Linked DNA regions of Homo sapiens. The protein of the gene in region 1 purifies or fractionates together with the protein of each later gene. This does not show direct contact. Each region holds a gene or a part of one and is shown in the gene's direction. Other genes may lie near its edges.

Region 1 (3,500 bases):
TTCTTTTCTTTTTTTTTTTTTTTTTTTTTTGAGACAGAGTTTCACTCTGGTTGCCCAGGCTGGAGTGCAGTGGCACCATCTCGGCTGACTGCAACAGCCGCCTCCGGGGTTCAAGCGATTCTCCTGCCTCAGCCTCCTGAGTAGCTGGGACTACAGGCGTGCGCCACCACGCCTGGCTAAATTTTTGTATTTTTAGTTGAGACAGGGTTTCACCATATAGGTCAGGCTTGTCTCAAACTCCTGACCTCGGATGATCCACCCGCCTCGTCCTCCCAAAGTGCTGGGATTACAGGTGTGAGCCACCGCGACTGGCCTGAAGCTGCTTTTTCTGAGACGGGCTGATCAAGGGGTTTCAAACAATTAAGAAATAATAAGGCATTGCCTCCCCGCTGGGTGAGATTTGGGCAGGCAGACTAGGGAGAGGGGCTTCGGGGCCAGCACTAGCGGATGCGGGGACTTGGGGAGAAGTGGAAAAAGATGCTCACGGTTCCCTCCTTCTCCACCCAGCCCCTGACGAGGGACTCAGCCTTGAAGAGTGAGGGACAGGATGCGTTTTCCTTTCCACTCGCTCTTTGGGGTGGGGGGAGGCAGTTGTGCCTGGTGGGCCTGTGTACGGACTGGCAGAGGAAAGGTTGGAAGTGGTGATGTTCAGAGTTCAGGACCCATTTGGTTTTGTTTTTTGTTTTGTTTTGTTTTGTTTTGTTTTGTTTTGTTTTGGAGACAGAGTCTTGCTCTGTCGCCCAGGCTGGAGAGCAGTGGCGTGATTTTAGCTCACTGCAACCTCCGCCTCCTGGGTTCAAGCGATTCTCCTGCCTCAGCTTCCCAAGTAGCTGGGATTACAGGCATGTGCCACCATGCCTAGCTAATTTTTGTATTTTTGATAAAGACAGGGTTTCGCCATGCTGGCCAGCTGAGTTCAGGACCCATTTGGAAAGAACTAAGCAGCCCAGTTTGCCACCCAGAGGGTCTGGAGGAGGAACTGTGGGACCCAGTGGGTCACCCATGACATGGAATAAATGCCAGGCTGAGAAGGGAGACCCTCGCCTTGCCCGGAGGCCTGGAGTGGAGGCCCTAAGAGAGGTGTGGCCAGTTACTTACGTGGGGACCAGAGCCCCAAGGATCTGGGAAAGTGGGGACCGTGACACCGCAGGCAAGAAAGCCTGCAGGGGCCAGGTGCCACAGCTCACGCCTGTAATCCCAACACTTTGGGAGGGCAAGGCAGGAGGATTGCTTGAGGCCAGGAGTTCAAGACCAGCCTGGGCAACATAGCAAACCCTCATCTCTCTTTAAAAAAAAAAAAAAAAAATTAAAAAGAAAAGAAGAATGCCCACAGGAAGGCAGTCCTGGGTTCGAATGCCGCCCCTATGGCTCAGGAGCTGGGACCCTCCTGGTAGAAAGGACTGCCCTCAGGGTTGAGCGTCTGTGAAACGGGCAATGACCGGGGAAGGGCCTGACCTGGGCTCGCAGCTGACTCAGCATTTGTGCTGTTTCTCTCTTTCCTCCTTCCCCAGTTCTGAGACCGCTGCTGAGCCAGAAACTCGAATGCTAGCAAGGGAGGGGATGGGTGAGGAATGATAATAATGATGAGCTTCCTGAGCATCTGCCCTGAGCCAGGCCCTGTGCTGAAGGCTGTGTGGGGATGAGCTCACTGAGTCTTCACAACAGCCCTGTGTGGTCCCAGTGTTACAATGCCCATTTTACAGATGGGAAAACTGAGGCCCCACTCATAACCCTCATGCCAGAGAAAGGAATCCAACAGGGGCTTGGAACTGCAGTCAGAGGCTGCCCCTCAGTGGCCATTTCTTCTCGGGGGGACTTGTCACCCTTATGGTTTCCATGACCCTGGCCACCCTCCATAGATATATACCGTGAGCCCATAGGAAAACATTTTCTCGTAGCCACCTTTTTAAAAAAACAAAAGAAACAAGTGAAATTAATTTTAATCACATATCTAATCTATCTGAAATATCATTTCCACATATAGTCAATTTCAAAAACTGTCAATGAGGCTGGGCGTGGTGGCTCATGCCTATAATCCCAGCACTTTGGGAAGCCGAGACGTGTGGATCCCTTGAGGTCAGGAGTTCGAGACCAGCCTGGCCAACATGGTGAAACCCCATCTCTAGTAAATATACAGAAATTAGGACAGCCGTGGTGGCTCACATCTGTAATCCCAGCACTTTGGGAGGCCGAGGTGGGCCTATCATTTGAACCCGGGAGGCAGAGGCTGCAGTGAGCTAAGATCCTGCCATTGCACTCCAGCCTGGGCAACAAGAGCAAAACTCCGTCTCAAAAATAAAAAAAATAAAAATTAGCCAGGTGTGGTGGTGGGCGCCCGTAATCCCAGCTACTCGGGAGGCTGAGGCAGGAGGATTGTTTGAACCCAGGAGACGGAGGTTGCTGTGGGGCTGAGATCGCACCACTGCACTCCAGCCTGGGAGACAGAGCAAGATCTTGTCTCAAAAAAATAAATTCGGGCCCGGTGTGGTGGCTCATGCCTGTAATCCCAGCATTTTGGGAGGCCGAGACAGGCGGATCACCTGAGGTGGGGAGTTCCAGACCAGCCTGACCAACATGGAGAAACCCCGTCCTACTAAAAATAGAAGAGTAGCTGGTCGTGGTGGCACATGCCTGTAATCCCAGCTACTCTGCGAGGCTGAGGCAGGAGACTCGCTTGAACCCGGGAGGCAGAGGTTGCAGTGAGCCGAGATCGTGCCATTGCACTCCAGCCTGGGCAACAAGAGTGAAACACTGTCTCAAAATAAATAAATAAATAGATAGATAAAATAAATAAATTAATTAAGATAAAATAAATAAATAATAAAGGTATGCTGGAAGGGAGAGAGAGAGGAGGTGTTTGAGAGAAAGGAGGAGAGAAAAAAAGTGAAGAGCCCCAGGCGACAGGCGTCGTGCAGGGTGCGGTTCCACGGTGTAGTGGAGCATGCGACATTCAGGGAACAAGCCAAACTGGACAGTGAGAACGGAACACTGGCAGCCCAGCTACAGTGGGACTCGGATGGGCAGGGCCTGCGGTGAGACTGTCAGGCTTCAAGGGACAGAGCCAGGGACCTCGAACCTAACGTGTGTTCCCCATCAGGCAGATGTGGGTGAGATGCTCTACATCCCAGAGCCCCACTCCCCTCTTCTCCAAAATGGGCCTTGGCTGGGTGCAGTGGCTCATGCCTGTAATCACAGCACTTTGGGAGGCTGAGGCAGGTGGATCACCTGAGGTCGGGAGTTCAAGACCAGCCTGGTCAACATGGCAAAAACCCCATGTCTACTAAAAACACAATAATTAGCCGGGCTCATTGCTCACGCCTGCAATCCCAGAACTTTGGGAGGCCAAGGCAGGAGGATCACTTGAGATCAGGAGTTTTGAGATCAGCCTGACCAACATGGCGAAACCCTGTCTCTACTAAAAATACAAAAATTAGGTCAGGTGTGGTGGCTTATGCCTGTAATCCCAACACTTTGGGAGGCTGAGGCGGGCGGATCACCTG
Region 2 (3,500 bases), on another chromosome or scaffold:
TTGATTTTTAAATTATGGTCATTCTTGCAGGAGTAAGGTGGTATCTCATTGTGCTTTTAATTTGCATTTCCATGATAATTAGTGATGTTGAGCATTTTTTCATATGTATGAGGCGTATCAAAAAATTTTTCTTATGCCATTTGTATATCTTCTTTTGAGAATTGTCTATTCATGTCCTTAGCCCACTTTTTGATGGAATTATTTGGCTTTTTTCTTGCTTTTTTGAGATCCTTGTAGATTCTGGATATTAGTCCTTTGTCGAATGCAGTTTGTGAATATTTTCTCCCACTCTGTGGGGTGTCTGTTTACTCTGCTGATTATTTATTTTGCTGTGCAGAAGCTTTTTAGTTTAATTGGATCCCATTTACTTATTTTTGGTTTTGTTGCATTTGCTTTTGGGTTCTTGGTCATGAACTCTTTGCCTAAGCCAATGTCTAGAAGAGTTTTTCCAGTGTTATCTTCTAGAATTTTTATGGTTTCAGGTCTCAGATTTAATCTTTGATCCATCTTGAGTTGATTTTTGTATAAAGTGAGAGATGAGGATCCAGCTTTATTCTTTTACATGTGGCTTGCCAATTATCCCAGCATCATTTGTTGAATATGTTGAATAGGGTGGCCTTTCCCCACTTAATGTTTTTGTTTGCTTTGTCAAAGATCAGTTGGCTGTAAGTATTTTGCTTTATTTCTGGGTTTTCTATTCTATTCCATTGGTCTATGTATCTTTTTTATTTTCTATAGCCTAATTGTGAAAGTGGCATGTCTATTTTTTTAATACCTTTCTTGTTAGTACAAAAAAAAAAAGCCAAACTCAAAACTTATAACCAAGAAGTTATATACATAGTAGAAAAGTACATTTAAAATAGTTTATTTCTCTTTTTAAAATAGTAGGCCAGGCGCAGTGGCTCACGCCTGTAATCCCAGCAGTTTGGGAGGCTGAGGCGGGCAGATCACCTGAGGTCAGGAGTTCGAGACCAGCCTCAACATGGAGAAACCCCATCTCTACTGAAAAAAAAAATATACAAAAAATTAGCCGGGCATGGTGGTGCGTACCTGTAATCCTAGCTACTCGGGAGGCTGAGGCAGGAGAATTGCTTGAACCTGGGAGGCGGAGGTTGCAGTGAGATGAGATCGTGCCATTGCACTCCAGCCTGGGCAACAAGAGCGAAACTCCATCTCCAAAAAAAAAAAAAAAACAAGAGTAGTATTACTTATGTATTGGAAAAACCTTGGGAAGCAAAGATTATTCGTTTATTATTTATTTACTATTTAATTTTACTTTTTAAAATAGAGACGGGGTCTCATTATATTTTCCAGACTGGTCTCAAACTCCTGGGCTCAAGTGATCCTCCTGTCTCGGCCTTCTAAAGTGCTGGGATTACAGACATGAGCTACCTTGCCTGGCCTTAAAAATGATTTTAGCTTGGCCAGGCGCGGTAGCTCACGCTTCTAATCCCAGCACTTTGGGAGGCCCAGGCGGGCGGATCACAAGATCAGGAGATCAAGATCATCCTGGCTAACAAGGTGAAACCCCGTCTCTACTAAAAATACAAAAAAATTAGCCCGGCGTGGTGGCGGGCACCTGTAATCCCAGCTACTCGGGAGGCTGAGGCAGGAGAATGGCATGAACCCGGGAGGCGGAGCTTGCAGAGAGCCGAGATCGCGCCACTGCACTCCAGCCTGGGTGACAGAGCAAGACTCTGTTTCAAAAAAAAAAAAAGATTTTAGTTCACTATTAATATTGTTGTAGAAAAACAGCTCCTATTAACATTTTTCCTCAGGTTTCTTACGTGGGTTTTTTGGTAATAGTATGTATTCTTTTTTTTTTTTTTTTTGAGACAGGGTCTCTCTCTGTTGCCCAGGCTGGAGAATAGTGGCGTGATCTCTGCCCACTGCCACTTCTGCCTCCCAAGCTCAAGCAATTCTTGTGCCTCAGCCTCCTGAGTAGCAGGGACTACAGGCACAGGCATGTGCCACTACGCCCAGCTAATTTTTGTATTTTTAATAGAGACAGGGTTTCACCATGTTGGCCAGGCTGGTCCTGAACTCCTGACCTTAAGTGATCCACCCACCTCAGCCTCCCAAAGTGCTGGGATTACAGGTGTGAGCCACCGAACCTGGCCAATAATATTATGTATTATTTATATAAATATACTGATTTTTCACATACACTATTAACATAATTATTTTCTTTTTATTATACATGCTTCATAGATAGGTTTTGTGATGAATAATAGTCTTTGCAGGTGTGTTTTAGTTAATCATAGTCCTATTATAAGGATATTCAGGCTTTTTAGTTTTTCAGTTACATGTAGTACTGTCATAAAGATCTCTGTAGAAAGCTTTTTTCATTTTCAAAGTGATATTTTTAAGATGTATTCCTAGACATGGAATTACCGAATTGAAGAAGATGAAAATGTTTTAAGTTCTTGACATTTCTGCCAAATTACACTCTGAAAAGATTTTCAATATACTGAGCACAGAGTATCCTCTTTTCAAATATTTTTAAAAATTTGTTATTAGGGAAATTACATCTTTCCATGTGTTGTTAACCAGCTGTGTTTCTTTTTAAGAAAGTTCTTGGCCGGGCGCAGTGTCTCACGCCTGTAATCCCAGCACTTTGGGAGGCCGAGGCTGGCGGATCACGAGGTCAGGAGATCGAGACCATCCTGGCTAACACGGTGAAACTCCGTCTCTACTGAAAATAAAAAAAAATAAAAAAATAAAAAAATTAGCCAGGCGTGGTGGCGGGTGCCTGTAGTCCCAACTACTCGGGAGGCTGAGGCAAGAGAATGGCGTGAACCCGGGAGGCAGAGCTTGCAGTGAGCCAAGATGGTGCCACTGCACTCCAGCCTGGGCAACAGAGCAAGATTCCGTCTCAAAAAAAGAAAAAGAATGTTCTTCACCCAAAATATATTGGGATCTTGGGATTAAGAAACAATCTTTTTAATCAAGTGTTTTGTTTTTTTTTTCATTTTGTAGCCAAAGAAACTCTCCCTGATTTGGTTTCCATCATTCCTGACACAGTCCCGAGTACTGACCTTCTCATTGAAACTACAGCCTCTGCCTGTTACACATTGAACAACATAATCCAAAACAGTTACCAGAATGCACGCGACCTTCTAAACACCGGGGGCATCCAGAAAATTATGGCCATTAGTGCAGGCGATGCGTAAGTCCTTCAGTTCTGCCCGTCAGCTGCCTCCCTTTCCCCTCACCAGCCTGTGTGTAAATAATCCGGTTGTGAATGTGCGGTCATGACCATCATGTGCAACATGGCAGCAAACAGGATGTAAAGCCAGGCCAGATCATCTGGTCAGCCCTCAGTGATCAGCCAAGGAAAGAACTGAATCCACCACACCACATGCTTGTCCCTTCTCTTCTAAAGTATCAACAGAGGGTCAGACTCCAGAACTTCTCTTGGTTGTGCATTCCAGCATTGTATTGGCCTAATGAATTAGTTTCCCAAAGCCACAGCTGTGATTTAATAACAGCAGAATGTA

The links. Proteins that work in one complex are often made in the same cells at the same time.
Region 2: the proteins of SULT2B1 (region 1) and PKP2 purify together in Homo sapiens (co-immunoprecipitation; one large-scale study listed by IntAct). This does not show direct contact.

The regions. Positions count from the first base shown.
Region 1 is NC_000019.10:48,558,672-48,562,171, forward strand, and holds part of SULT2B1 (sulfotransferase 2B1), read left to right. Parts: intron 1-3,500. UniProt on the Homo sapiens protein: Sulfotransferase that utilizes 3'-phospho-5'-adenylyl sulfate (PAPS) as sulfonate donor to catalyze the sulfate conjugation. Responsible for the sulfation of cholesterol.
Region 2 is NC_000012.12:32,795,778-32,799,277, reverse strand, and holds part of PKP2 (plakophilin-2), read left to right. Parts: intron 1-2,979; coding exon 2,980-3,169; intron 3,170-3,500. UniProt on the Homo sapiens protein: A component of desmosome cell-cell junctions which are required for positive regulation of cellular adhesion.